3 separate regions of the Homo sapiens genome follow, and all the other regions are linked to region 1. The links come from fine-mapping of genetic effects on gene expression. A gene starts in region 1. Each other region holds a variant in brackets. All regions are shown on one strand. Distances are between the middles of the regions. Region 1 holds the start of PCSK7 (proprotein convertase subtilisin/kexin type 7). Region 2 holds the start of LOC100652768 (a long non-coding RNA gene). Region 3 overlaps SIK3 (SIK family kinase 3).

Region 1 (10,813 bases):
TAAGTATACATATGCTTAACATTAGGATATTCTGTCACTTGTCACAGCCATTCAAGGTATTGCTTTTATTTTTTATTTATTTATTTATTTTTTGAGACAGGGTTTCACTTTGTCACCCAGGCTGAAGTGAGGTACTGCTTTTTAAAGGGGACTTTAAAACATATTTACAATGACATCCAACATTCACAATTGCACATCTTTCACCCAGGAATTACGCCTATGTTTAATTTCTTTGACCCCACCCTCTTTTTTTAAACTAATTCTATAACTGACACTCTTAACCATACCCAACTAGCAATGGGGATTCAAGTTGATGCGTCTTTGTTTCCTCAGTCGTACTAGTTCAAAATAAAACAACTGAAAGAATATCTCGCTGGGGAGCAATGGCTCATGCCTGTAATCCCAACACTTTGGGAGGTCAAGGCAGGAGGATCATTTGAGGTCAGGAGTTCAAGACTAGCCTGGGAAACATAGCAAGACCCTCTCTCTACATAAAAATTTAAAAATTAGCCAAGTGTAGTGGCGTGCACCTGTAGCTTCAGTTACTTGGGAGGCTGAAGTGAGAGGACTGCTTAAGCCCAGGAGGTGGAGGCTGCAGTAGGCCATGATCGCACCACTGTACTCCAGCCTGGATGACAGATGGAGACCCTGTCTCAATAATATTAATAAAAACACTCGAAGCTGATTCCTTCCTGCTGGGAGTTAACTGTGAGCGGGTGCTTAATTAAAAATTCAGGCATATACAGTACCTGAGTTTGAATCCTGACTCCGCCCACCATTTACAAGCTGTTTGACTCTCGGCAAGTTACCTCATTTGTAAAACAGAAATAATACTATCCACCTAACAAGACTGTTGTGAGGATTACATGAGATAATGCACATAAAGTACTCAGTACAGTGCCTGGCACATAGTAAACATTCAATAAACCTTAGCTGCCATTATTACTAGTGTATGAAGTTGATTTTATTTATCAAAACTCTGACTCCAACATAGCTTGGAAACCTTGGGCAAATTACTAACCTCTCTGTGTCTCAGTTTCCTCACCGGTAAATGCGAATAATATTATCACTACCTCCTGGGACTGTTGTGAAGATTAAATGTGTTACCACGTATGGAACTGTAGTTAAGTGTTAGCTACTGTATTAGGGGACCCAGGTACACTGGAAAAGAGTTGAGGGACGGCCAGGTGCGGTGGCTCATGCCTGTAATCCCAACACTTTGGGAGGCTGAGGCGGGCGGATCACAAGGTCGGAAGATCGAGACCATCCTGGACAACATGGTGAAACTCTGCCTCTACTAAAATACAAAAAATTAGCCGGGTGTGGTGGCGGGCGCCTGTTGTCCCAGCTACTCAGGAGGCTTAGGCAGGAGAATCGCTTGAACTCGGGAGGCAGAGGTTGCAGTGAGCGGAAATCGCGCCACTGCACTCCAGCCTGGGTGACGGAGCAAGATGCCATCTCAAGAACAAAAAAAAAACAAAAAAATTGACGGAGCTAGGTGCAGTGGCTCATCCCTGTAATTCCAGCACTTTGGGAGGCCAAGACGGACAGATCACTTGAGGTCAGGAGTTCAAGACCAGTCTGGTCAACATGGTGAAACCCGGTCTCCACTAAAAATACAAAAATTAGCCGGGCTACCAAGCAGGTGCCTATAATCCCAGCTACTAGGGAGGCTGAGGCAGGAGAATCACTTGAACCCGGGAGGCAGAGGTCGCAGTGAGCCAAGATCGCACCACTGCACTCCAGTCTGGGGGACAGGGCAAGAGTCTCTCTCAAAAAAAAAACAGAGTTGAGGAAGAATACACAGTCAGCCTCTTTATGTAGAATGTGGTCCACATTCATGGACTCAACCAACCATGGACTGAAAATATTCAAAAGGATAAACGTTTGTGATGATGGACATGCTAATTACCCTGATCTGATCACTATACATCACATACACCACAACATCACTATGTACCCCCATGAATACGTACAATTATCGTGTCCATTTTTTAAAATATAAAAATAAATCACTGAAAAGTAAAATACCCAGTCTGGCCAACGTGGCAAAACCCCGTTTCTACTCAAATACAAAAATTAGCCAGGCGTGGTGCTGGGCGGCTGTAATCCTAGCTACTTGGGAGGCTGAGGTAAGGGAATCCAGGAGACGTTTGAACCCAGGAGACGGAGGTTGCAGTGAGCTGGGTTCACGCCATTGCACTCCAGTCTGGGCGACAGAGCGAGACTCCATCTCAAAAAAAAAAAAAAAAAAAAAGGCTGGGCGTGGTGACTCACGCCTGTAATCCCAGCACTTTGGGAGGCCGAGGCAGGCGGATCACGAGGTCAGGAGATCGAGACCATCCTGGCTAACACAGTGAAACCCCGTTTCTACTAAAAATACAAAAAATTAGCCGGGCGTAGTGGCGGGCGCCTGTAGTCCCAGCTACTGGGGAGGCTGAGGCAGGAGAACGGCATAAACCCGGGAGGCAGAGCTTGCAGTGAGCCGAGATCGCGCCACTGCACTCCAGCCTGGGCCAACAGAGTGAGACTCCATCTCAAAAAAAGAAAAGTGAAATAGATTTGAAACCATTAAAAAAATTTTCAGAAAAAAATTGGATGGTTGCATCTGTACTGAACATGTACAAACTTTTTTACCTGTCATTATTCCTTAAACAACACAACTATTTACATAACATTTACATTGTATTAGTTGTTGTAAATAACCTATTGTTTAAAGTATATGGGAGGACATGCATAGGTTATATGCAAATACTACACCACTTTATTTATTTTTTATCTTTTTAATAGCTTTAAGTAGGGTGGGCATATGCCTATCCCAGATAAAATACTACACCATTTTATGTAAGGGACTTGAGCATTTATAGATTTTGGTATCCTCAGTAGGGGTCCTGGAACCAATCTCCAGCATATACTGTGGGATGACTATATAGCTAATTTAGTTCAACACTGTACATAACAATGTATCATATTAGCTACTATGAGATATAAGTTTGGGTAATTGTGTATCTGTATGTATACATATTTAGATATCCATGTACACATACTGATATAACATTTCTCATATATAACATATAAACATATGGTTAAATGAACATACAGTCCACGTAGGAAAGGGCTGGAAAATGTTTGCATTTTTTAATGAGTTTGACCCCATGTATTCTATTCTATTTATTCCCCAAACATTTAGCATGCCTGCTGAGTATCAGGTGCTGTGTTGGATACCAGAAATACAAAGATAGATCAGACAGTCCTGTACCTTTAAAAAGCTAGTGCAGTGCCATCAGAGCCAAAAAGAAAGACCAGCTACACAAGACCATCTCAAAAACCCTTTACCCAAATGAATCTTCCCAGTCAGGAGTCCACACATTACCTTAGACCATCTGGGAGACCTTCGTCTGATTTGGAAGCACATAAACTAGAAGATTCCGGAGGACTGGGGGCATTGGCCACAACACCAGCAACCTCAGACGCTGCCATTATGCTCTGTACATTCAGAAACAAATTACAGGCTACAAGTTTCCAAAGTTTAAAACAAATGTATCTCTCCCCCCTCAGAATGTCCACACAACAGAGCTGTCGCAGTAAAGAAACACAAAAACCTGGGCTCCGGGAGAAAATACTTAAGAGTACTAAAAGAGACATTGTATGCAAAGTCCTAGTGTCCTAGTGGGCAGCAATCCTCAGGAGTCACTGTATTTACATAAATATCTAGGAGTCTGTGCAAAGATCTTATTTTCACTTTTGGCAGAAATGTAGTCATTTCAAACAATACATCTTAGTCTGCCAGGATCTTCCAAGTGGTCCCAGGCCTACCTTGTCTGCTATCATTTTTAATAAAAGACGTACTTTTCGGCCTAGTATCAATCAGATCTCATGTTTTTAAATCACTTTATGGCTGTTACATTCAAAGCATTCTCCATTAATTTAAGGGAAGTTTTTGGAGGTGTCTGCCTGTAAGTCAACAAGTAATGCAATACTGGGCAATCCAGGGTGCATATTTTACTGTCAGCGTGCTCCCCACAGATGGGAAAGGCCTGATACCCACTAACTGAGCAAAGAACAGACTCTTCAGAGTGACTAGTGGTGCAAAAAAGAATCCTGGGTTCTCTAGCGTGAAAAAGTCAAGGTAAAAAACATGGTAACACAAGTAAGGGAACTGGGACGGACGCCTTTTTTAAAAATCAAAAGGTCATCTTTTATGCCGCAGAGCAAACTTATGACCTTATGAGGAGAAAAGAAAATCAAAATACTTGGGAGGTGGGGATGAACATCGGGTTAGTTTGCATTCTTGCTTTTATTTTAACAGCATCACACGTATTCCCCCCCGGAACACTGAAGAGCGCATAGGGCAGATAGGTAGATGGGGCTGTGTCAACACCTCAGTCACAGCCCACAGACCCTCTGTGCCTCAGTTTCCCTCATTATACAAAGCTCCTGGGAGAAAATGGGCCCAAACCGCCATTGCTGCTCCCTCAGGTGCAAACATCCCGTCTCCAACATAGCCCAGGGCTGGGGGGTCCTCTGCGCCCGGTGAACGAAACCCCAGGACAAGGGCCATGCATGCAACTCCGTGGCTAGAGAGCCCGTGGCGCGGGTAGGAACAGCTGGCTGGAGGGTCGAGTGTACCAAAAAGAACTCCGCAACCCGGGGCGACCACCAGCGAAGCAGGGGCGCCGGAGCCACGGGTCCTCGGGCGAGAACAGGGGACAGACGGGAAGGGGACAATGGGGGGAAGCGGCGCTGGGTGGCCTTGGCCACCCCCCACAGGGGACTGCTAGGCTGGCCGCTGGCTCGGACCAGACCCCCCTCCACCCCTTCCCCTCGGTCCCCCCACCCCGCTGCCAGCCACCCCCCCGTCCCACTTCTAGGCCGGGACCCCCGCCTCGGTTCTCACAGCACCCTCCACGCCCCCCACCCGACCCCCATGCCCGGCCCTCGCCCCGCAACCCCCACCCACGCTCGCCCCGCACACACCTCCCGCGCCGCGCCCCCGGGAGGAAAGTGGGGGAGGGACGGGACGCACCTGAGCGGGCGGAGCGGGGGGAGGGGGCGGCCGAGCCACGGGGGGAGGGGTCGAGCGCCGGCCCGCGCGCGGCACCTCCCACTTCCGGCGGCACGAGCGGAGGGGGCGAGGCTCCGGCCGCGAGAGGAGAGGCCGCGGTGGCGCCGCGCCGCCCCCGACGGCGCCCTCTGGCGGCGACAGCTGGCGCCGCCGGGGCACGGGGATGCTGCGGGAGACCCCTGAGATACAAGTGGACTCTCCCGGGGCGCGGGGAAGAAGGGAGAGCCGACTGCGAGAAGGAAGGCGACCTGGGTGGGCAGGATCCCCTCTGGGAAGATTACAGGGACAGTCGGGGCCATGGCGGTCAGAAGGAGAAGAGCAACGAGTGGCTTTTAAAGGTCGGAACCGAAATGCCCTTTACAGAGGACGCCATGAAGGAGAGCCTTCTGAAGAGGGACCATGTGGAAGATGCCCCGAGGACTCGGGGAGGCGGAGCCCGCGGGTTCAGCCCCCAGCGCCCGCACGGCCCCTGCCTGCGTAGGCCGCCCGCGGGAGCCGGACCCCGGGCGCCGGTTGCTGTGGCCCGCGGGGGTCGCCGGGCCGCAGGCGCCGCGCTGATTGGCTGCGCCGCGGGCGGAAGTGATGCTGCTGTCACTGCTCCTCCGGCTCCCGGGAAGCCGCGAGTTTCCGCAGGGAGGCGGCGGCAGCTGCGGCGGGGCCGGTGAGTTGGGAACTAGGTGTGGGGCTGGACCTGGGTGGTCAGGGGGCCCCAGAAGTGGGGGAAGCCGGCGTCTGAGGATGAGGGAGCTGCACAGAGGGTGCCTGAGGTCCTGGCGTGGGGGACCAAGGAGATGGGGCCCCAGGGCCCAGAATTCCTGGATAATGTGGGTGCTAATGAGGAGAGGGGCACATTGCACGGAGCGATCGAGGCCGACGGAGGGAGAATCGGGAAACTGACCCGGTACCCAAGCTGGCTTCTAGGAGCCGGGTGTGGAACAGCGAGGACAGTAGCTTGGGAGCAGGATCTTGGACTCCAGGCTGCCCATTCTCTTCTTCCTTGTCAATTAAGAGCTGTAAAGGGAGGCCTAGCCGTTGGGAGAGGTTGAGACCTGCTTTCAGAAGGCATTTAAGGTTCCTTTCCCAGAAGCCTGGGGGATAAAAATGCTGCTTTGCCACTAGTAGACAGAAGGAGCTCCTGCTTCTCTTTCTTCCTGACATCTGTGGTGGGATCTACTGAGTCTGAAGGAGTCTGCCTAGCGGGGCCACTGTCTGGCTAACAAGGGTTTTGTTTGTTAGTTTGTTTACTTAGTAGAGTATGCAGACTGGGGAAGACACCTAAATATCTTGGGAGAATTGAGGCTCCCGGGGGCAGGGAGGGATTGAGAGGGAATATGCCTGGAAACCTAAGAGAAAACGAGAGGAAGAAATGTAGTATGAAGATTTTTAGAGGTAAAGGAGAGGTGGCATAAGTTCTCCTTTCCAGGAAGCCTTTCAGTAAAATTCCCATTTTTCTGGAATGCTTTGAGGTAGAGCCGCTTGGGTGTGTATCTGAGTACTAAGCCCTGCCCCAGGGTGGACCCAGTGGAGAGCAAAGGCTTTTAAAGGAGCCCAGCCACCATAGGTACACACATGTCCTGCCACCCCATTTGTCTGTCCCCCAGTTCTAACTTGGCTCTTTTTTTTTTTTTTTGAGGGCTCCTGAGACCAATTCCCTGGTTCTGTCAAACCCAGGCAATTGGAGTCCCAGTCTGGAGTCTGAGTCCTCACCTTGAAGCCAGCCTCCTGAGCTCAGTACAGGAGTAGCTGCTTAGTGAGGTTCTCTCATCATTCGTTCTCTCCTGGTTGCCCGCTTGTCCTTGGTGCCTGTTCTGTTTTGTTTGCACTCTCTGGCTTTCCCCGTTTCGCCCCCGCCGCCTCCCTCCTTTCACTTTCCCTGGTATCCTTCTGGGATATACAAATCAAGAAGTTAGCTACCACCTGGACTTCTAGGACGTTATTACCTACTCTTTCAAGAGGCATTTTGGTAACTGTTTTTTGCTAGGCCTCTGGGGAACAAAATGAAAAGAGGGTGGCACGATAGCACAGGAAGTGGGTTTTTTGGGTGTTATACTGATTTGGCCTCACCGTACCAGTTCTGCTCCAGTCTATGACCGATTTTAGATCTTTGGAAATGACAATTAATGAAGTTTCTTTGGTCCCTGGTCCTGGAGTTTATCTAACCTCAGCTTGTTGCCCTGGGATTGGTGGGACATTATTTCTTCTGTTCTTGGATCCCACAGGTCTGTAGCCTTTGCTGAGTCAACACTACTCACAGTGAAAGTGATGCCTTTTCTCCATTTGCACAACATGAGTGTGACGTGGTTAGCCAGACCAGGAGCTCAACCTCATGTAGAATCCAGGTGGGCACGGGGCCCTGTTATGGGGAATTAGCCTTGAGGACAACTGGACTGAGGAGTCAGCTAGGGAAAGATTTATGTCCCCTCTAAATGTAGGGGTGAAGGGGTTGTCTCTGCTAAAGAACAGTCACGATGCAGCCAGTAGTTTGTGGAAGCGATGTGTGCTTTGAGCCCTGTGGGTGGCAACAGGGGTTGCTCGCAGTGCCTGTGAGCAACTGGACCTCCTGCTGGATTAGCTGGTGTCGTGAGGATTGGCTGTCTTGCTGTGGGAGGCCATCCGCTGGTGTTAGTGCTGGCCCACACTCCACCTGGGGGCTTATCCCTGTTGGTCAGGGATAAATGTGAACAAAAAGAGAAGATCAAATGTTTCACAATTTAAAAGGCATGGCTTAGGGACTTCCAGGGGGAACACATGGATGGCTCAGCATCTCCCTCTCAGATTCCTGCAGTTACCAGCTCTTTGATCTCTTCCATATCCTTTTTCTTTGTCTGCAGTCCACTGCTCTGATGCCGAAGGGGAGGCAGAAAGTGCCACACTTGGATGCCCCCCTGGGCCTGCCCACCTGCCTCTGGCTGGAATTAGCCGGGCTCTTCTTACTGGTTCCCTGGGTCATGGGCCTGGCAGGGACAGGTGGGCCTGATGGCCAGGGCACAGGGGGGCCGAGCTGGGCTGTGCACCTGGAAAGCCTGGAAGGTGACGGGGAGGAAGAGACTCTGGAGCAGCAGGCGGATGCCTTGGCCCAGGCAGCAGGGCTGGTGAATGCTGGACGCATCGGAGAGCTTCAGGGGCACTACCTCTTTGTCCAGCCTGCTGGGCACAGGCCGGCCCTGGAGGTGGAGGCCATCCGGCAGCAGGTGGAGGCTGTGTTGGCTGGGCATGAAGCTGTGCGCTGGCACTCAGAGCAGAGGCTGCTAAGGCGGGCCAAGCGCAGCGTCCACTTCAACGACCCCAAGTACCCGCAGCAATGGCACCTGGTGAGTCCAGTCCTGCAGTTTGCAGTTTCAGGTGGGTAGGTTCCAGTCCAGTTCTTTAATGGGCTTTTGACTATATCACTCTTCAGTCACCTCCATCCTTTGCCTGAGGGACCATTTCCCGGTTCTGTGGTGTTTCCCTAGGCTCTCCCTCCCTTCTACTGTCTTCTAGAGGCCGGTGTTCTACAGTGCTCAGGGCACAGATGGTGCAGCCAGGCTGCCTGGGCTCATGGTCCAGCTCTGCCACTTACTAGCATGTGCATTTGGGCAAGCTGCTTAAACTCTGTGCCTCAGCTTCTCCATCTGTAAAGTGGAGATTGTAATAGTGCCTACCTCATAGAGTTATGGTTAGGGTAAGTGAATGTATACATGTGTAGCACTTAGAACCATGCCTGACACATGGTAAACACTATGACATAAGTGATACGATACTACCATTGGCATAAGAGGTGTATCATCTGGCCCGGTGCGGTGGCTCACGCCTGTAATCCCAGCACTTTGGGAGGCCGAGATGGGCAGATCACGAGGTCAGGAGATCAAGACCATCCTGGCTAACACAGTGAAACCCTGTCTCTACTAAAAATACAAAAAATTAGCCAGGCGTGGTGGCAGGCGCCTGTAGTCGCAGCTACTCGGAAGCCTGAGGCAGGAGAATGGCGTGAATCCGGGAGGCGGAGCTTGCAGTGAGCCGAGATCCTGCCACTGCACTCCACACTCCAGCCTGGGTGACAGAGCAAGACTCCGTCTCAAAAAAAAAAAAAAAAAAAGAAGTGTATCATCCAACCCTTCACCCTAGCTACCATTTTATCCCGAATCCCCCATGACTGATGACAAACTTTCCTAGAATCCAAGGCTGTGGCAGAGCTCTCACCTGCTCCTCCTTGACTCTGTTCCCACCTGACCTATTGGTCTGCAATCTGTCTGGCTCTTTGGTGGAGGCCAAGGGTGAAAAGGGGCTGCTAGCTATAACTTCATCTCCCTCTGGGCTGTGCTATGTGTCACTGTATTCCCATCCTGTCTCTCTTACAGAATAACCGACGGAGCCCGGGCAGGGACATCAACGTGACGGGTGTGTGGGAACGCAATGTGACTGGGCGAGGGGTGACGGTGGTGGTAGTGGATGACGGAGTGGAACACACCATCCAGGACATTGCACCCAACTATGTGAGTGGCCCTGGAACGACACCCCTCACTCCCCACGTCTTACCTCCTTCTTGATGTTGCCTCAGTCTTGTCCCCTTTTCTAGAGGTCTTTGGGCCAAATAAAAGAGCCTGGGAGGTGGGATGGGGTTCATCCTCTTCTTTTCCCTAGCTAGCCAGTCAAGGCACAGCAGGTGGCTCTAACTCTAAGAACAATCCTGCTCTCAGTTCTAGTCCTTTTCTGAGGAGTAAGGAGTGGCCCCTGCAGGCAACTTCCCTCTTGTTGGAAATCCGAGTGCCTTCCTCTCTCTAAAGCGTGGCCTCTAGGGAGCCCTACCTGCCTTTTTTCCAGGTTTCCCAAGCCGTGGAGCTGTAGGCACATTCGCATAATGGGCAAGAGAAGTTTGCTGGGAGCTGTGGCACTTCTCAGTTTTGCCCCAGTGTCCTTTGCTCATATCTTTTAGCCAGTGTGGTTTGCAGATAGAAATGGGCTTATTGGGTCCGGGCGCGGTGGCTCACGCCTGTAATCCCAGCACTTTGGGAAGCCAAGGCGGGCGGATCAGGAGGTCAGGAGTTTGAGACCAGCCTGGCCAAGATGGTGAAACCCCGTCTCTACTAAAAATACAAAAATTAGCCAAGTGTGGTGGCGCTCACCTATAGTCCCAGCCACTCGGGAGGCTGAGGCAGAAGAATCGCTTGAACCTGGGAGGCAGTTGTTGCAGTGAGCTGAGATTGTGGCACTGCACTCCAGCCTGGGCAACAGAGTGAGACTCCATCTCAAAAACAGAAACGATGAGAAATGAGCTTATCGCCCTAGCTTCGATTCCCAAACTCCCATTTCCTTTCTGTCCCTGAACCCCAGGACCTGATCCCCTCTAACCAGTGAATGACCACATGTCACCTCCAAAATATTTCAGAGCCCTGAGGGTAGCTATGACCTCAACTCTAATGACCCTGACCCCATGCCCCACCCGGATGTGGAGAATGGCAACCACCATGGCACGCGATGTGCAGGAGAGATCGCGGCTGTGCCCAACAACAGCTTCTGTGCCGTGGGCGTGGCCTACGGGAGCCGCATCGCAGGTAACTTGTGCCTCCAGCCTAGCCTTGGTAGGCTGCTCCTGTGACCACAGTCTTCATTTCCTGCACCCCTCCCTACTCTGAAACATCTTTATCCCATAGCCCAGCTGACACACATAGCATAGAGCAAGGGTGAGTTTATAATAGGTGTCTGTAGGACATATCAGCTCATTGATTTTTCAGTGCAGTGGTGTTTCAAACATGTTTTTCTATTTATAGT
Region 2 (10,813 bases), 26 kb after region 1:
GTGAAACCCCGTCTCTACTAAAACTACAAAAATTAGCTGGGCGTGGTGGCATGCGCCTGTAATCCCAGCTACTTGGGAGGCTGAGGCAGGAGAATTGCTTGAACCCAGGAGGTAGAGGTGGCAGTGAGCCAAGCATCTAGCCGCTGCACTCCAGCCTGGGTGACAGAGCTAGACTCCGTCTCAAACAAACAAACACCCCTGTCCTTGCTCAGTCATCTATAATAGCTCTTAGTTGCTTATTTAAAACAAAAATCTTTAAAGCGCATCCCACCCTAGGTTACCCAGCCCCTACTTTCAGTGCCTCTCTGAGCTACTGTGTCTGTAAAATCAAGGTATTGTACTCTGCCTTGCATATTGGAATAATTTTTTTTTTTGAGACAGGCTCTCACTCTATTGCCCAGGCTAGAGTGCAGAGGCACAGTCATGGTTCACTGCAGCCTCAACCTCCTGGGCTCAAGCCATCCTCCCACCCTCAACCTCCTGAGTAGCTGGGACCACAGGTGCTTACCACTATATCCAGCTAATTTTTTATTTTTTTGTAAAGATGATGTCTCCCAGGCTGAAGTTATCCTCCACCATGCCTGGAGTGAGCCACCATGCCTGGCCTGGAATAAATTAATGGAAGAAAGGGTGCTTTAAAAAGAATTGTATTCGGCCGGGTGCAGTGGCTCACGCCTGTAATCCCAGCACTTTCGGAGGCTGAGGCGGGTGGATCATAAGGTCAAGAGATTGAGACCATCCTGGCCAACATGGTGAAACCCCATCTCTACTAAAAATACAAAAATTAGGTGGCCATGGTGGCGTGCACCTGTAGTCCTAGCTACTTGGGAAGCTGAGGCAGGAGAATCGCTTGAACCCAGAAGGCAGAGGTTGCAGTGAGCCAAGATCATGCCACTGCACTCCAGCCTGGCAACAGAGAGAGACTCTGTCTCAAAAAAAAAAAAAAAAAGAATCGTTCTCATTACAGCCTAATTTCTTAATAGTCCCCAGTTGAGTCTTCCTCTTCAGTAGTTTTTTGTTTTTGTTTTTGTTTTAATAATTGTAGATTTACAGGAGGTTTCAAAGAAATGTACAAGAGAAGTCCCGTGCACCCTTCTCCCAATCTTAATGTTTCACACAATTAAAGTATAATATCAAAACCAAGAAATTGACATTGGTACAATCCATAGAGCTTATTTGGAGTTCACCAGATACACATGCTGTCAATATTTGTGTATGCGCGTGTGTAGCTGTATGCAATTGTATCACATGTAGCCTTGCATAACTACCACCACAACCAAGATCCAGAACAATTCCATTATCACAAGACTCCTTTGTGTTACCCCTTTCTGGCCACACCCATCCCCTCCCCTGTCCCTGGCCCCTGGCACCCATTTATCTGTTATGTATCACTGCAGGTACTTCAATTAACATCACCTAAATGGAATTGTGTGCTACGCATCCTTTTTCTTTTTTTTTTTTTCTTTGAGACAGGGTCTTGTTCTGTTGCCCAGGCTGGAGTGTGGTAGCATGAGCATGGCTCACTGCAATCTCCACCTCCCAGGCTCAAGCGATCCTCCCACCTCACCCTCCCCGGTAGTGGGACCACAGGTGCACACCACCACACCTGGCTATATGCTTCTTTTGAGATTGCTTTTTTCACTCACATAATTTGCTTGAAATTTATCCACCAGCATTTTTTAAAAATTAACTGTGCATCATCTTCAGTGAGATGTGTGCATTTCGTCTTTGTTCATGCCTTTTCCACTGCCTAGAATGCCCTCTACCAACCCTGTCTACCGATCTGTATTCATTTCCTTCAGTGTGTCTCACTGCTGTGTGCCTAAACCCATCTGACTTATTTCTCTTCCCTTATCAATTATGTATATTTCCCATACCATATCATTTTCCACTTGCAGGTAGGAGGCAGGGACCACGCCCATCTTATCTTTATATTCCCAGCATCTAGTACAGTGCCTGAAATGGAGGAGGTACCCAGTAAATAATGTTTTGGATGAATGAATGATTGAAGTTGCTCTGCTGGATTCTTATATTGTGTCTTGGGTATGTGTCGTCTTCCCAACTGCACTCGAAGCTACGTTGTAAACTTGAGAGCAGCAGCTCCATTCCATTTACTAGTATAGGCGAGGTCCCAGTTAGGGTTGCCGTAGATGTTTGTATGTGGCTTCAGTGAGCGTGTGTCTTTGTGTACGTGGGGGTGAAGTGAAGGCGTGTTTGTGGGCTGGTTTCCCAGCTGCCCAGCCTGACTTTCTACAGTCAGCAGGATGGACCTGGAGATGTCAGGGCTGAAGACCCTGGAGCATGTGGCAGTGACAGTCTCCATCACTCACCCACGGCGCGGCAGCTTGGAGCTGAAGCTGTTCTGCCCCAGTGGCATGATGTCCCTCATCGGCGCCCCCCGCAGCATGGACTCGTATGTACACCCGCCCGAGGCCTGAGCAACCTTTTCAGCAAGGGCCTTTCCAGGGAAAAGAAATGGAAGAAGTGGATCCTGGCACTGTCCTAAACTACTGTGGCACTGGCTATCCCTGGCGGCTGGAAGCCTTTCGTCACATACCTTCTTCAAGCGCTAGGCCCTGCACCTCACATACATGTTCTCTAATCCTTCTAAGAACCCCCTAGATTAGACTTTGTAACCTCCTTTTACAAATGAGGAAACTGGCTGGGTGTGGTGGCTCACACCTGTAATCCCAGCACTTTGGGAGGTCAAGGCAGGAGAATCACTTGAACTCAGGAGTTCAAGACCAGCCTGGGCAACAAAGTGAGACCCTGTCTCTACAAAAAATTTAAAGATTAGCTGAGCATGGTGGTACATGCCTGTAGTCCCAGCTACTCAGGAGACTGAGGTGGGAGGATCACTTGAACCCAGGAAGTCAAGGCTGCAGTGAGCTGTGATCATGCCACTGCACTCCAGCTTGGATAACAGAGTGAGACCCTGTCTCCAAAAAAAAAAAGAAAGAAAAAGAAAACAAGTCATGGAGCTAGTAAGTGCCCAAGAGAACAAGAATAAACCTAGATCCGTGGGACTCCAAGCCTGTGCGCGCTCCATGCTTGCTTTTTCCACCACACCACGTTAACACAATTTCCTCCTTCCATGAGACCCCAGGGGAAAGGGGCACCTGAGAAGCCCTCGTGGCACCCTCCCAGGTTGTTTCCACGGCTACTACAGTAAGAAAGTGTTGCTGGGGGAAGGTCAGCTCTCTGGCCCACGCCTTCCACCTGTTTCTGCTGTGTTCTTTCCTCAGGGATCCCAACGGCTTCAATGACTGGACCTTCTCCACTGTGCGATGCTGGGGGGAGAGAGCCCGAGGGACCTACAGGCTTGTCATCAGGGATGTCGGTGAGTCTCGTGCCCTCACACCAGGCCCTACCTTTCCTGCTTGTTATCTGGTCCCTCTGCATCTCAGAGTCCCCACAGAAAGTGTCCCGTGTGCAATATATAGGGTTGCCATTGGACCAAGAGAGTTGATGCCAAGAGTGTGCCCATCCGTGAAATGGGCATTGCTCTCTGCAACTGTTCATTTATACTACCTCTCATATTCCCTGGAGGAGTGACCCATCCATCTTTCCTCAGGATAGCAACAAAAAGTCCTTGTCGAAACCACATTTCAAGTCCTTTTACGTATAACCATCCTTCGGCCAGCCCCGGTAGGCAGGTAAGGGCAGGACTCATTTCACCATTTTTTTTAAACTGGCCCAGAGGTTTGAGGTGACTTGTGGAAGGTCACCATATCAGTGAAGGCCACAATATCCATGAATTGTGAATATCTTTAGTATCAGCCTATAGACTGGAAATTGAGCTCCACCCTCCCATCCTCCAGTCAGTTAGGTATTCTCTAGGCCAGTGGTTTTCAAAGCTTTCTTTAATTTGGTGGAAAGACATTTTTTTCTAATCCCAGCTGAACCCCCAAAATACGGGAGAGAAAAGCAAGACTCTGCTTTGGAGTACAGCCTTTCAACCCTTTCCATCCCTAAGGGCACCCAGTGAGGCCCTTCTGCAGAACCTGGGGTCAGTGGGACACAGTGAGGCAGCTCCTGGAGCAGACCATGTGGCCTGAGCCCCTTTGGGTGGCAGGGCGGGCAGGGCCTCTGCTGTCTGGCATGGCTGACAGAGGGGCGTGGCTCACGAGCTGCCCCTTGCTGCCCTAGGGGATGAGTCATTCCAGGTCGGCATCCTCCGGCAATGGCAGCTGACCCTATATGGCTCTGTGTGGAGTGCAGTAGACATCAGGGACAGACAAAGGTGGGTAAAGCCGCATGTGTCAGAGGGAAGGCCAGTCACAGGGGAAGGGCCGCCTAGGGAGCCCATCGCCCTCTGAACCCCAGCTGTGCTTCCCAGTTCCAGCGTCAAGCCGGTAGATGGAGCCCCGGGCTGGGAACTCACAGTCTGGGCCTCTCCTTTTTGCTGTGGGGCTTCCCTGTCTTCACCTGTAAGGCAGGAAAATGGGTGAGGGCAGATGGTATAGGAACCATAGTCAGTGGGGCATCCTCACCTCTTTTCTTCTCCACAGGCTGTTAGAGAGTGCCATGAGTGGAAAATACCTGCACGATGACTTCGCCCTGCCCTGCCCACCGGGGCTGAAAATTCCTGAGGAAGATGGTTACACCATCACCCCCAACACCCTCAAGGTACTAGGGCCAAGACTCAAGCTGCGGGTAGATGGGACTGTCCTGTCTGGGGGATGGAGTTCTTAGTGTGTTTCTCAGGGTGACCTGCGGGGTGAAGGACTGGGAAGACCTGGGTCCCAGCAGTGGTTTCATAGCATTGCTCCTACCCTGCTAGCCTAACTCTTACAGGACAGGCCTTGTCGGGGGAGGGGGCAGAGGGAACAGTTTGGGTGAAAAAGGCAGTCCCTAGAAGGAAAAAGACTTTCTGAGCTCATTGTCCTGGGCTGAGAAAGGCTGTAGGCTTCGGGAAACAGTGCCTCACGTAGGTGCTTGCCTCGGCCCCAGACCCTGGTGCTGGTAGGCTGTTTCACCGTCTTCTGGACTGTTTACTACATGCTGGAAGTATATTTGAGCCAGAGGAATGTGGCTTCCAATCAAGTTTGTAGGAGTGGACCCTGCCACTGGCCCCATCGGAGCCGGAAAGCCAAGGAGGAAGGGACAGAGCTAGAATCAGTGCCACTTTGCAGCAGCAAGGATCCAGACGAAGTGGAAACAGAGAGCAGGGGCCCTCCCACCACCTCTGACCTCCTTGCCCCAGACCTGCTGGAGCAAGGGGACTGGAGCCTGTCCCAGAACAAGAGCGCCCTGGACTGCCCTCATCAGCACCTAGACGTACCGCACGGGAAGGAGGAGCAGATCTGCTGACCTCAGGGCCTGACAGTGTGGGACAGGCTCTTCTTTCCCAAAATTAGGGAGCTCTTGACAGAAAGCAGTTCTGATGCTTACATCTGGAATCTGAGGCATCCTCTGACTCCACTCAAAGAGGGTGAGGGCCTTCTTAAGATACAAATGGTGGAGGATTGCTGCCAGAGAAGTCTGGTCAGAGCCACAGGGTCTGCCTCCAGCCAAACGGGAGCTTTTGGTGAGAAGGTGTTGGACAGGGGATTGGCGCCCCCCTTTGGTTTGGCCTCCATCCTCATCTCTCTTGGGCCAAGCCAGCTGCCTAGGTCCCCCAAGCATGGGGGACCCCTTCCCACATATAAGTTGAGAAGGTGCCTGCCATAGCCAGGAGCGCATCTCAATGGAAACATCACTGGGGTCACTTGGGAAGAGGACTTCGGGGTAGAGGCTGGGAGGAGCCCCTGGACATGCCTGTCCTGAAAGCGGCTGCCTCCATTATCCATTCCCAAGATGCCTGATCAGAAACCAACCATGAATGAACCCCTGGCTCCTTCACCACCCCCACGATTGGTATGATGCTGCCGGCACAGCTGGGATACACACGGCTCCCCCAGGCCTGAGCTGCTTCACTAGGGAATCCTGCGGCAGGACTGCAGAGCAGATGGCAGATGCACATGTTGGAGGAGAGAGCCTTGGGAGCCACTGCCACTCCAGTCCTGCCACCACCCTGTCTTCCTCTGCAAGTGCTCAGGGAAATGGCCTTCCCGCCGGAGGCCAGCTATCTGCCTGACAGGCTGTGACTCTTCTCTCAACCTTGGCCTTCTCCCCTCTTCTGAGCTAGTTGGTTGAATTTTTTTTAATGCTTAAGATTTGTTTTTCTCTTTTCACAGCAACATTTTCTTGAATTTTTTTCTGCACAGCTTTTCCAAAATAAAAACCTTCCAAACAATTCTGCCACTCGCAATCTCTCCTTTCCTCTGTCTCCCCAAAGCCACTGCATGCTGCTGAGTGGCTCCTTTTTCCCTTCGGTCCCCAAGATTCACTCTCCTGTTCTATGGCCTGTTTCCTCTGAAAGAATCTGACTGTCCTGGAATCTTGGCACATGAAGGGTCCTTCAGAGGACGGCAGCCAGGAACACATACAAGCCCGAGATGCCTGCCTGTCCCCTGCGCAGATCTGAAACCATAACAAAAGTGACCAGGGCAAATCAAACTCTGCCAGCCAGGCCTGAGAAAAGATTGATTTTTTTTTTTTTTTTTTGAGTTCCAACCCCAAAAATATTCCAGGACAAGATAGGGGGCAGGCTGGGCTGGTTCTTCTTCAATGGGCTTTTGCCGCCAAGGAGGACAGTGGACTTGGCCCACATCCAGGCTACCCCCAGCCCGCTTCTCCCCTGCTTAGCCCAGGGAGGAGACAGTAGAGGTGATGGGGGCAGCCGGGAGGGAGGGGCCAAGGCAGTGATGCTTTCGGGTAAGAAGTTGGGCTGAGGCTGGGGGCACAGGGAGGAGCTGCCCAGGTGCAGTTACCATTGCTCAGTGACAGAGCCTCAAAGCTTGGCCAGGGCTGAAGGTACCACACGGGTGTGGGTGAGGCAGGCTAAGCGGGATGGCTGCAGCCAAGGAGCTGGGGGAGGGCCGGGCTCAGGGCTAGCCCTCTCCGCTCTAACTGATGATCTGCCGAGGTCGTCCGTAGCCTGTCATGCCGGCCTGGGAGGCCCCTCTGTTGCTGCCCATCTGAAGGCCAATGACATGCTTTCCCTCCTGCAGCTGGCTCTCTGTGAATTCCCTCTTATGCTCCTGCGCTTTCCTAGAAGAGGAGGAACCAGGATAAAGACTTGGTAGAACTGTGTGTTTTCCACCCGTTTTCTGATCCCTCTGTTACGTCCTAGCCCAATCCCATTGCCTTCCTGTT[G/T]CACTTTTTTTCCCTAATCTAGCTTGCCTCATAGGCTAGGGAGACTGAGCGCAGGAGGGTGGAAAGGGAGGGGTCAAGGAGTATTAAGGACCCATTATTCCCCATCCCAGACCCTCACTTTATCCTTTCTTGGCTATCTGCTTCCCCTAATCCTTCCCGCAAGCTCCTTAGAACAAGCCACCTCCCACCCCATGCGGAGACCCAAGCTCCCTGGGGGCCACATACTTCATAAACCAGTTGGGATCTCCACGGTAGTGCCCATCATTCTTGGTCACTGCCAAGCTGCCCAAAGCCATCAGGGTCCTCTGCACTGCTGCCATGTCTTTGCCTGTGAGAAGACAGGAGAGAGGAGATGAACATCAAGAACGTATAAACAAGACTCCAAGCCAGGGCCTGCCCCCGTCTCTCACAAAAAAATGGCCAAACCAGGGCCAAGAGTTGTCCCCAATTCAAGGGAGGCCTCTCAGTGGGCCCTGTGAGCGTGGCGTGTTATTCTCGGCATATCCCATCCCTGCTGTGTGCGGGCAAGCACACCCCTAGTTGTGGCATATTCTGGTCATTCCCTCTCCCTGTCCCAGCACCCTGTCCTCCTGCCCACCTCCTCCCCCAGCCTCTTCCTCTCTACCTTCAAAGAGGTCAACAGTCTGGAACATGTCAGTCTTGATGACCCCATAGTCCTCAGCCGCCTTCAGGAACTGAGCCACCTGCTCCATCTGCTTGAAGACCATGGAGGGTGGGTTCTCGGGCACCTTCACCGGCTTGGAGCCATCAGGGTACAGGCTGTTCACCAGCTTGCTCAGAATCTACCAGGCATAGGGCATAGGACGCAGCTTAGCAGTCAGCTCAGGGATTGGCCCAGGACTCACAGGGTGGCACACCCCAGCCCCCCAGCGCCCTAGCCCAGGGTGCCACTCACCACGCCATTCTTCAGCCAGACCTGGAAGCCCAAGCGCCCACGGTCTGGGCGGCCCACATCAGGGCCACACTGCACTATGATCCACTCCACCAGCCGCTCCTCCAGCTCCTCGTCATACTTCTTCTCGATTTTGGACTGCACTTCGCGGCTCATGCCATAGGAAGGACCCTTGTTGGCCATGTCTGGGGAAAGCTAAAGCAGGCCAGGGTGGAGGAGGGAGGGGCAGAGGGTCAGGGAGCAGCTCTGCTTTCACCCGTGCCAGGCAGCCTTCTAGCTCTGTGCAGGATACCCGGCCATCCTAGACACTTGTCACAGCACTGCCCATCCAGGCCAGGCTCAGCCCCTACTCCAGACACCTCTCTGAACTTGAACACCAGGAAAGAGGATACCAGGTCTTTGGAGGTCTAGAGCAGGGGTCAGTAAACTGTTTTTGTAAAGGATAAGACAGAACATATTTTAGGCTTTGCAGGACACATGGTCTCTGCTGTTGCAGTGTGAAAGCAGCCATAGACAATATGTAACAAATGAACATGGCTTTGTTCCAATAAAACTTTACTTACAAAAGCAGACAGCAGGCTGGATTTGGCCCATGAGCTGTAGTTTGACAACCCTTGGTCTAGAACATTCTTTGCCAAGACCAGCTACAGAGCCACTGGAGAGACCTTCCAGAAGCCACATTGCCCCCACAGAATACAGCCAGCTGGTGCCTTTGTCCAGCTGCGGGTGTGAGGGTTTACTGCCTCTGCCTCAAGCAACCATTACCTCCCACTCTCACCCAGAAGCAGGCCCTGGCCTGGAAGCCCGAACTCCAGAACTCCAGCTCTTTTCAGGTCAGCTCAGCTTCTGGTCTGCAGCTGAAGAGACTAAAACTCGCCCACCCCAGGCAAGGGCGACGAAGCCACCAAAGCCCAAGAGTTCTTGGCAAAGAAGCTGCATTTCCTCAGAGAAATCAGAGACACCTGGTCTACCCATCGACTTCCCCTCATGCCCTTACGCTCTCGTAAGGCTACCCTTACGGAGTAGCCTGAGTAACCAAGAAGTCAGAGTCCCCCAGGGATCTTCCAGAGCCAAGAGTCTGCCTGCCAGGGAATGGGAAGCCTGGCCCCATCCAGCAACTGCCACCCTGAGGGCCTGGGCCTGGCACTGCTCAGGAGTCCCACTCATGGAGAGGGGTGGCAGCAGGAGTGGGCCAGGCAGGTAGGTCCCTGGGCAGACAGACAGGGGTGGCTGGGAACAGGAACAGGAAACTGACCTGTCCACTGATGTCACCCTAGGGTGCTGTGCCTTCTCTCCAGTGTTTGTCTGAAGAGACTTCCAAAAGAGGTACCAAAGGAAGCCGAACCCATCCCCTGGCCTCAGAGGGGTCAGAGGTTGGGAGGGACACGCTGGTCTGAGGATGGACGCAGGAGCGCACTCCCCCGGCTCCCTCTCTGGTGAGACCCCTCCCCACTGGCACCCCACCCGCGGGAAGCAGAGCCAACACTATCACACCCCACTGGTCCCAGGCCAGCTGCCCAGCCCGATGCCCTGCCCTTCCTTTCTCAGGGCTGACAGGCTTTCTGGGCTGGAGTTCCTCATCTGTGAAGTGGGGGTTATGTTACCAACCTCAGAGGGCTGTGAAAATGGGACGGTGTCTGTGAACTCCCTCACATACTGCCTGGCCCTTAGCAGAGCTCCTCGAAATGTCAGTTCTTTGCTGCCCGGAGCCAGGCTCCTGGTAATGACCAGGGAGAGAGCCTGCCCTTGACCAAGGAGTGAAAAACTGACCTCAAAATGTCAGTTCTTTGCTGCCCACTCCAGCCTCCACCCGCTTCTCACAATCATTCCCTGAGCGCGCAGCAGCTCACACGGAACAGAGTTCACACGGACTCATCGAAGTGCCCGTCATTGGGCATCCCTCTCCTCCTTGCGTCTGTTTCCTTATGTGTAAAGTGGGGGCAGGACCACTTCTGAGGACCCAGTTCTCTGAGCACTGGGGATGAGGTGGGCTCCTGGCCCAGCCACCCCTCTCCCTGCCAGTGATGCCAGAGACCCCAAAGGCAGAGTGCTCTGTTCTGCTGTTCAGCTACAAACAGCCAATCCCTCCCTTCACCCTGTGTGTCCCACCCCCGCTCCCCAACCACCCAAGGACTCCTGCACAAAGAACTGTGGTCCAAACCCCCAAGTCAGCTGGGACCAGGTGATTTTGGTAGCCCTGCATCCTGGCTTCCATCCACCCCAGCCTCTGTCTCAGCCTTTGCACCACCATCCCAGACAGGCATCCACCTTCTGTCTCTGGCCCTGCTTCTACCCCCACTCCACCTGCCCTCATGTCTGCCTTCCCCTTCTGCACCCCTGCTGGGCTCCTGAGGAACAGGATGGAAGGAGAGTGTGTCCCCTACCCCCAGCTTCCAGTCTCAGGAGGGTCAGAACAGACAATACAGGTCAAAGCAGCAAGGCTAAGGGTGACAGGTACACAACGCTGCAGCCCCCAGATCTAGAGACAAGATTAGGATTTCGGTCAGAGGGGGATGAAGCACACACCATCCCCACTCCCACCCAGCACCACCATCCTTCCCCTTCCTCCTCCTGGGTCAGGGTCGAAAAGTGGAGAATCCCCAGAAATCCTTTAGAGTCCTCTGATGAAGCCTCCCGAGTCCTGCCTTCGAGCCAGTGGGGAGGGGGAGAGGAGGATGATTACAGGGCGGCCCCCCCAGG
Region 3 (9,407 bases), 170 kb after region 1:
GCGCGATCTCGGCTCACTGCAGCCTCCGCCTCCCGGGTTGAAGCGATTCTGCCTCAACCTCCCCAGTAGCTTGGACTACAGGTGCCTGTCACCATGCCCAGCTAATTTTTGTATTTTTAGTAGAGATGGGGTTTCACCATGTTGGCCTGGCTGGTTTCGAACTCCTGACCTCAAGTGATCCTCCCGCCTTGGCCTCTCAAAGTGCTGGGATTACAGGCATGAGCCACCGTGCCTGGCCACATTTTGATATTTTTAATCAACTTTATTGAGGCATAATTTACATTCAATAAGATTGAACCATTTTAAGTTTACAATTTGAATTTTGACAAATATACACACCCATTTAATAACCATACAATCAAGATACAGAACAATTCAGTCTCGCAGAAAGTTACAGTAGCACTGTTTGCATTCATTCTCATCCTCCTCCACTTCCAGAAAACCACTGATTTGCTGTCACCATAGGTTAGTTTTGCTTTTTCTGGAATTTCATATAAATGGCCTCATCTAGGATGTACTCTTCTTTCATCAGCATTCTTTAAGATTCATTTATTGTTGTTTGTATCAGAGTTTGTTGTTTTTTATTGCTGAGTGGTAATCTGAGTAGTGTTACATTGTATGGATGTAACAAGATTTGTTTATTCATTCACCTATTGATGAACATTTGGATTGTGTCTGGTTTTCTTGCTTTTATGAATAAGGCTGTTATGAACTTCATGTACAGCTTTGCGTAGATGTATGTTTTCATTTCTCTTAGGTAAATACCTTACAGTGGAATGGCTGGGTCATATGGTTGGTAGGTTTATGTTTAACTTTTAAAGAAACTGCCAAATTGTCTTCCAAAGTTGCCGTACCATTTTATATTCTCTTTAGCAATATATGAGATAGGAGAGTTCTAGTTGCTTTAAATCCTTACCATTGCTAAAATGATATATCTTAAATTTTAGTTGTTCCAATAGTTGTGTCATGGTATCTTGTGGTTTTAATTTACATTTCCCTAATGACTAATGATATTGAGTATCTTTTTATGTACTTATTTTCATGCTGTGTATCTTCTTTGGTGAAGCATTTGTTCAGATCTTTTGCTCATTAAAAGAAATGGGCTGACCGGGCACAGTGGCTCATGCATGCCTGTAATCCCAGCACTTTGGGAGGCCAAAGTGGGAGGACCACTTGAAGCCAGGAGTTCGAGACCACCCTGGGCAACAAGCGACACTCTGTCTCTACAAAAAACTTAAGAATTAGCTGGGTGCTTGGCATGTGCCTTTAGTCCCAGCTATTCAGGAGTTTAAGGTGGGGGGATCACTTGAGCCTAGCTGTTTAAGGCTGCAGTGAGCTGTGATGGTGCCATTGCACTCCAACTTGAGTGACAGAGCAAGACCCTGTCTTTCCAAAAAAAAAAAAAAAAGGATTGTTTCTTTATAGTTGAATATTGAGAATTCTTTATATATCCTGGATACAAGTCCTGTGTTATATAAATGCTTTACGCTTTGCAAAGATTTTTTTTTTTTCCGATTCCATGGCTTATTTTTTCATTCTTTCAGCAGTGTCTTTTGAAGAGCAAGAGTTTTTAGAGGCCAGGTGCGGTGGCTCACGCCTGTAATCCCAGTACTTTGGGAGGCCGAGTTGGGTGGATCACTTAAGGTCAGGAGTTTGAGACCAGCCTGACCAACATGGTGAAACCTCATCTCTATGAAAATACAAAAATTAGCCAGACATGGTGGCGTGTGCCTGTAATCCCAGCTACTCAGGAGGCTGAGGCAGGAGAATCACTTGAATCCGGAGGCGGAGGTTGCAGTGAGCTGAGGTCACACCACTGCACTCCAGCCTGGGTGACAGAGCAAAACTCCATCTCAAAAAAAAAAAAAAGAAGAAAAGAAAAGAAAAATAAAGTATTCTAGTGAAGACCGGATTCCTTGGCATAAGACACCAGGAATTTTAGATTGATAGGAGTAAAAATAAATAAAGAAATATTGGCTCAGGGAATAAACTTCATTAAAATCAATTTATGGGCCAGGTTTGGCGGCTCACACCTGTAATTGTGCAGCACTTTGGGAGACTGAGGTGGGCAGATCACTTGGGGCCAGGAGTTCGAGACCAGCCTGGCCAACAGAGTGAAGCCCTGTCTCTACTGAAAATACAAAAATTAGCCAGGTGTGGTGGTGCATGCCTGTAATACCAGCTACTAGGGTGGCTGAGGCAGATGAATTGCTTGAATCCTGGAGGTAGTGGTTGCAGTGAGCTGAGATCGTGCCACTACACTCCAACAGTGTGAGACTCTGTGTCAAAAAAAAAAAAAAATCAATTTATGAAAGTTATTTTTAAATTTGAAGATATTGAAGATACTAAATTTGTGTTTAAAAAGCATTTATTTTGATCAACTCCGCTGTATAGAATATTTTGTCTTAAGTCACTGTAAAGTTTCCATGCCCTCAAATGAAATACAGTGCCAGGTTTAACATTCGTTTTCATGGATTGTTTTCAAAAGTTATTGAGTTGTCTGATTTGCTGTAAAAAAAATGAAAAATTCATTTCTTTTATTAACATGATGTATTTACTGTGATTATTCTAATAGACTAATGGACTTTTAATTTTACTGTTTAAAATAGTTTATAATTAAAATTTAATATCCAGTCTTCACTTGTTCTTTCATTTTTTAAAATAATAAAGTAGTTTGGGGTTTATCAGAACAAGGGAAGAAACCAAGCTACGTCTCATTTTATGTTGGGTAAGAATCACTAGAGACGAAATTATTATTATTATTATTGTTATTATTATTATTATTATTATTTTTGAGATGGAGTCTCCCTGTGTCACCCAGGCTGGAGTGCAGTGGTGCAATCTCAGCTCGCTGCAACCTCTGCCTGCTGGGTTCAAGCAGTTCTTCTGCCTCAGCCTCCCGAGTAGCTGGGACTACAGGCGTGTGCCACCTTGCCCAGCTAATTTTTTGTATTTTTAGTGGAGATGGGGTTTCACCATGCTGACCGGGCTGGTTTTGAACTCCTGACCTCGTGATCTGCCCACCTCGGCTTCCCAAAGTGCTGGGATTACAGGCGTGAGCCACCGCCTGGCCGACAAAGTTACTTTCTATGGGATCAATTCCTGAGTTTTATCTAACACGAGAATTTTAGCAATTAAAAGTCAAGTGCAGTTCAGATATATTAGTTTAGGTAATATTTTTAGTGTTTGAAGAGAGCTCAATTTGTAAGCCATTTAGCTACTAATTACCCTGCCTTTGCTGTAGAAAGAACTTAAATGAAAGACCTGTTTTAAGATGCCTTTTTAAAAAGCAGCCGTTGTAGGTATAAGAGTTGAAAAATCAAGATCTAGGCAGCAGTGGAGAATTATGAAGTCTGATAAGATAATATGCTAAAATTGTATTGTTAATTCTGATTTGTGACAGTGCTTATCAGTAGAAAAGAAATGTGATCTGTGGTTAAAGACTGAACTGCCACTAAATGTAAAATGTTTTTTAGATGAGTTGGAAGAATGCTGAACCAGTCTTTATTGCCCAAGATGGCTTTGAGTCAGCAATCTCAAAGAATAAAGAAAAAGGAGTTAAGAGTGAGAGGCAATAAGTAATATGCTGTTTTCATTTAAGATGTCTTGAAGAGATAATTAAAAAGTTGTAGGGGTATAGGAATTGTGATGTTTCTCTGGTGTTAATGAAGTCTACTATAAATTAGATAATACAGGCACTCTAAATTATTGTTTTTCCTTTTTTAAATTCTTGGCAGTTACTGACAAATTATACTCAGGATCAAGTTTAAGTCTCAGTACATGAATGACCCTGACATTGAAAACCCTGAAGGATGTTGACCTTAGTTTTGACCTGGCTTTATCCTGAGCAGCCTCTGTGAATTCTTAATGCTGTGCTCTTTAACAGGGGTACTTTTTCCAGATGTTTTTGATACTGTATTCATTAACATATAATAAAGTTATCAGTGTCCCTGAAGGCTAATTTTTTTTTTCTGACTGAATATGAGATATGGAGCGTGCAATTTGTACTTATTGGTATTAACATTACCAACAAGGTTTGTCTTTTTCTTATAAGATGGGGAATCTTAAGAAACTTCAGGCCAGGCGTGGTGGCTCATGCCTGTAATCCTAGCTTTGGGAAGCTGAAGTGGGGCGAATCACTTGAGATCAGGAGTTCGAGAACAGCCTGGCCAAGGTGAAACCCCGTCTCTACTAAAAATACAAAAAATTAGCCAGGCGTAGTGGTGGATGCCTGTAATTCCAGCTACTTGGGAGGCTGAGGCCCGGGAGACAGAGGTTGCAGTGAGCCGAGATCATGCCATTACACTCCAGCCTGGGCAACAGGGTGAGATTCCATCTAAAAAAAAAAAAAAAAAAGAAACTTCATTAAGAAGTTAAAGCCTGGGTATGCTCTCCTTGATAATTTCTTTTTACTCACATCTTTATTGGTAAATCAGGCCAGAAGGATTATTTACCTTTTCAGAAAGGGAAACTAGGTTCTACGGTTTGGTTACAGATAGCCTGGCAGCTGACTTTACATTGGGCAGAGGAGACTGCCGTACTTAGTGGTTCTGAGAAACCAAGAGAGTATTGCCTGCTACAGCTATGAGAAAAGGTATTGAATCTTCCCCCTCCTTTGTGGGGGAATTCCAATCTCACTAATTTATGGTTTCAGTGTAGTTATGGTCATAGCTTCTGAGACGTGGGTACTCATTGAAGCTAACAGTTTTAGAGAAAGGGGAGGGTGTTTAATTCCAATAACTGGTAGTTTATATCACTTTAATAATTTAGACCCAATGATATGAAGATTAGTTAGTATAAGGCAGATATACATGTAATACATTCTTTTAAATATTGTACAAGGAGTAAGAAACCCCTTTAAGTAGTCATGTAATTCATTATAGCAGCTGAACATTTCTAAGTGCAACATTATAGGAAACCAGTAAAGCTGATTTCTGATTTATCTGCAGCAAAAGAATTTAATATTCCAACTTCAGCAAAAGGCAATTAAAAACAAACTTAAATCACATTGTGTGCTTTTAATACGTATGTTTTTTTCCATGCTGTCTGATGTATTTTAGTTCTTAGTCATTTACTTCCATTAGTTTCCAAATTGGTTGAGGGAATTAAATTGGTAGCCAAGTTACCTATACAAGATTTTCCTACTGTGTATGTGAACCACTCTTTCTGGGAAAATCCTCCCGTTGGCACTTTTCTTGAAGGCATGCACTTTTTCCACACTTAGTGATTTGGGGACTGAAGCCTGCATTTAGCCTGTATTTAGTCAGAGGTGACAAATGGCTAAATTTTTTTTTT[C/TC]CAGTTTAGAGATTGAGAAATGATTCAGAATTGAAACTAAAGTGAATTTGGACTTACTGTATTTCTTTGCAATTACTTTTAAACAATTGCTGTCTGTTACTATTAGGCATATTTTGGACCTATGGGTTCCATTTTGGGCCGATATTTGGTGTTATGTTGTTAAATTTCTTGCCTGGCTTAGATGGTTCATTGTTGAAACTAAACTGGAACTAGGTTTGATCAGAGGGCCAATGGAAATGCACGTTGTGGCCCATTTGGGGAGGACAAAATTTGACATATTTTTACTTTAAGAATTCTTAGGAAAATTTGGATAACGTGAGAATATATTTCCAAAGGGTTAAGTAATTTTCGAGGGAAAATCAGAAAGCTTGTAATTCCTACTGAAAATATTAGCCTGCTGAAATATTAGCCTATTTCCTACTGAAAATATAACATTAGCAGGCCGGGCACAGTGGAGTTCACGCCTGGCTAATTTTTGTATTTTTAGTAGAGATGGGGTTTCACCATGTTGGCCAGGCTGGTCTTGAACTCCTGACCTCAAATGATCTGCCTACCTACGCCTCCCAAAGTGCTGGGATTACAGGCGTGAACCACTGTGCCTGGCTTGACTTTTTTATTTAAAAAAAAAAAATCTATACCCAATTGCCCTATCAGTTTATCATTTACTCACTTATTTGAAACGGTCATATTAACATACACTCTTTATTTATTTATGTGCCTATACTTTGTTTTAATTACTGTATCTTTAGAATATGTTTCAAAATTTCATTAACTATTATAATTGATTCTCTTTTTTTGTAACGTATCATCAGCAAATAATAATTTGGACTCTTCTAATATTTCTGCTTATTTATTGACATTTTCAAAGAATAGCTTATGATTGATAATAATCATACCAGCGAATACAGTGCTTTTCAACTTAAATATGCACAGCAATTACCTGAGGATCTTATTAAAATGAAGACTCAGTAGGGCTGGAGTGGCCTGAGAGTCTGCATTTTGACAAGCTCCCAGGTAATGTTGACTTATGGGTTCATAGACCTTATGTTGAGTTACAGGGAACTAAGATTTATTGAGTACTTAATTTGTTCTGGTCAGTGCTTTTACATCTGTGAACTCGTTTAATCTTTAAAACTCCATGATGATTATTATCCCCAATTTGCCAGTGAAGAAACTGACACTTAGAGAAGTTTATAACTTACCCAAAGTGACGCAACCATTAAGTGGAAGAGCCAGACTGAGCCCAAGCAGAGTTTGCACTCTGAACCTCTCGAATATATTGCTTTACCACATGCGTGTTCGCTCACACACACACACAACAGACATTATCTTCTCTTGTGTGACTCAAATGGTAATACCTTAAAATTTTTTTTTTAATGAATAGGCTTTATTTTATCTATTTTTTGAGATGGGGTCTTGCTCTGTTGCCCAGGAGTGCAGTGGTATGATCGCAGCTTACCACAGCCCTGAACTTCTGGGCTCAAGCCATCTTCCTGCCTCAGCCTCCTGAGTAGCTGGGACTACCGGTGTGTGCCACCATGCCCAACTAATTTTTAATTTTTGATAGAGACGAGGTCTTACTGTGTTAGCCCTGCCTGGTCTCAAACTCCTGGCCTCAAGCGATCCCTTCACCTCAGCCTCCAAAAGTTCTGATATTACAGGTGTGAGCCACAGCATCTGGCCAGGCTTTATGTTGAGAAGTTTAGAGTTTACAGAAAAGTTGAGCAGAAAGTACGGAGAAATCCCACATATCCCATTATCTCTGCCTGTCCTCACGATTTTCCCTGATATTAACATCTTGCATTAGTGTGGTACATTTGCTACAATTGATGAGCAATATTGGTACATTAACTAAAATTCATAGTTTACATTAGAATCCATAGTTTGTGTTGCACATTTGTAAGAGTTTTCACAAATTTGTAATGTTGCATATCCATTATTACAGTATCATACAGAATAATTTCACTACCCTAAGAATTCCCTGTGCTGTACCTATTCATCCCTTCCTCTCCTCAGTCCCTGGCAATCACTGATTTTTTTTTTTTTTTTTGAGATGGAGTTTTGCTCTTGTCATCCAGGCTGGAGTGCAATGGCATGCTCTCGGCTCACTGCAAACTCTGCCTCTCGGGTTCAAGCGATTCTCCTCCCTCAGCCTCCCGAGTAGCTGGGATTACAGGCATGCGCCACCACGCCTGGCTAATTTTTATATTTTTAGTAGAGATGGGGTTTCACCATGTTGGCCAGGTTGGTCTCGAACTCCTGATCTCAGGTGATCCGCCTGCCTCGGCCTCTCAAAGTGCTGGGATTACAGGCATGAGCCACCTCGCCTGGCCAATCACTGATCTTTTTACTGTCTCCATAGTTTTGATGTTACCAGAATGGCATTATTGCATGTAGCCTTTTCAGATTGACTTTTTTTCACTTAGTAAAGTGCATTTAGGTTTCCTCCAAGTTTTTTCATGGTTTGATAGCTCATTGTTTTTAGCACTAATATTCCATTGTCTGGATTTCCACTGTTTATTTACCCATTCACCTATTAAGGAACTTGTTGGTTGCTTTCAACTTTTTTCAACTATGAATAAAGCTGCTATAAACATCTGTCTGCAGGTTTTGTGTGGATATATGTTTTCAGCTCATTTGGCTAAATACCAAAGACAGAACTGCGTGATCATATAGTAAGAGAATGTTTAGTTTTCTAGAAACTGCCAAACTGTCTTACAAAGTGGCTGTACTATTTTGCTTTCCCACCAGCAGTAAATGAGAGTTCCTGTTGTTCTATATCCTTACCAGCATTTGATGTTGTCACTGCTTTGAATTTTAGCCATTCTAATAGGTATGTGGTGTCTCGTTGTTGTTTTAATTTGCAGTAGCCTAGTAACATATGATGTTTAGCATCTTTTCATACACTATTTGCCATCTGTATATATCGGTGAGGTATCTGATCATATCTTTTGCCCATTTTAAAATTGGGATGTTTGTTTTCTTATTGTTGAGTTTTAAGAGTTCTTTGTATATTTTGGATACCAGTGCTTCACCAGATAGGTATTTTGCAAAGATTTTCTTCTAGCCTGTGGCTTGTTTATGCCTTTAGTTTTTTACCATTAAATATGTTGCTTGCTGTCTGGTTGTGACAAATAATCATCAAGTTAAGAAAGCTTCTTTCTTTGTCTCTCTAAGAGCTTTTGTCAGGAATGGCTATTCAGGGAAGTCCTTGAAAATTATTTGGCTAAACAAATAGATTAAGCTTTGTTTTTAGCAAGACATCCTGTTTTATTCCATATAATTAAAAACACATTCTTTATAGTGTGATATTAAGACTGTAACTGAGACTTTAATTCCTATTCCTTCTAAATCATTTTCTCTTACTCTGTGATTTTGTATGCCTTTAATGTCCATGTTGATTACTTGTCCAGCATCTTAATCTCATCTGACTTGGTCTTTCTTCTCCCAGCTATCTGTTCTTCCACTTCTCTGTAGCAATTTATTTCTGTGGCCAAACGTCCACTTCTGGAATTACAAATCTGTAAATTTTTCTCTTTGAACACAATTTCCTGTCTTTTCAGTTCTTCCATTTGCTGAGTTTATTTTCTCATTTCACTGAGGCCGCCAGCCCCTTAAATCTCCATTGTCTCCCAATTTGTGACATTCTTCCTGGCATCACTTTATCCCATATGGATGCCATAATTGGTCACTTTCAATGAGTCATCAGTATCCGCAGTTCTCCTGCATCTTTGTTCTTCTTTCCCACATGCCATGCAGATCTCCAGCTGTGGATTAACAGTACTGCCCTTTTTCTGTGTTCCCGCTCTAGGGCCTGAAGAAATGATTTCATCATATTAATTTGTTCTTTTGCTAATCCATGGGTTTTAGCCTCATCTGTGCTTATTATTCTCTTTAGTAGTTTTCTCACTTGTTTGGAGTTGATTTCATTTCTCCTTCACCAGAATGACAGTTCTTTCTAAATCTTTCCACATTTTCCTTTGGTTCGTGTCACCTTCCTCCATTGCAGCTGATTCTACACTTCAGCAGAGTGACCTTTAAAAAGAGAGAAAACAACAAATCTATTATGTTATTTCCTGTACAATACTGTTCATTATAAAGATGGAGGTAAT

Evidence for each region.
Region 2: its variant is fine-mapped to the expression of PCSK7 in whole blood (TOPMed, PIP above 0.99).
Region 3: its variant is fine-mapped to the expression of PCSK7 in whole blood (TOPMed, PIP above 0.99).

Annotation. Positions count from the first base shown.
Region 1 is chr11:117,226,940-117,237,752 of GRCh38, reverse strand. PCSK7 (proprotein convertase subtilisin/kexin type 7) reads left to right here and starts at 5,680. Exons shown (of 17, transcript NM_004716.4): 1 at 5,680-5,726; 2 at 7,285-7,404; 3 at 7,897-8,376; 4 at 9,403-9,537; 5 at 10,431-10,596. The coding sequence starts at 7,909. RNF214 (ring finger protein 214) reads right to left here and starts at 5,082. Exons shown (of 15, transcript NM_207343.4): 1 at 5,027-5,082; 2 at 3,374-3,486. The coding sequence starts at 3,480. RefSeq lists enhancers at 1,457-1,958, 5,833-5,882, 6,752-6,991 and silencers at 4,943-5,282, 5,493-5,642.
Region 2 is chr11:117,200,497-117,211,309 of GRCh38, reverse strand. TAGLN (transgelin) reads right to left here. Exons shown (of 5, transcript NM_003186.5): 2 at 8,117-8,308; 3 at 7,826-8,003; 4 at 7,426-7,528; 5 at 3,846-7,095. The coding sequence starts at 8,296. The coding sequence ends at 6,951. PCSK7 (proprotein convertase subtilisin/kexin type 7) reads left to right here. Exons shown (of 17, transcript NM_004716.4): 13 at 2,257-2,413; 14 at 3,246-3,340; 15 at 4,150-4,243; 16 at 4,512-4,629; 17 at 4,954-6,973. The coding sequence ends at 5,313. It overlaps LOC100652768 (a long non-coding RNA gene), which reads left to right and starts at 9,396. Exons shown (of 8, transcript NR_045215.1): 1 at 9,396-9,549. RefSeq lists enhancers at 2,320-2,820, 3,661-4,291, 4,292-4,922, 4,923-5,553, 8,732-9,395 and 1 more. The variant G/T (reference allele first, on the strand shown) is at 7,201.
Region 3 is chr11:117,058,536-117,067,942 of GRCh38, reverse strand. The region is part of intron 1 of SIK3 (SIK family kinase 3); the gene reads left to right. Among named protein-coding and RNA genes, the nearest start is that of SIK3, 35 kb to the left of the region's middle. RefSeq lists a silencer at 3,333-3,533 and enhancers at 4,315-4,414, 4,595-4,704. The variant C/TC (reference allele first, on the strand shown) is at 5,296.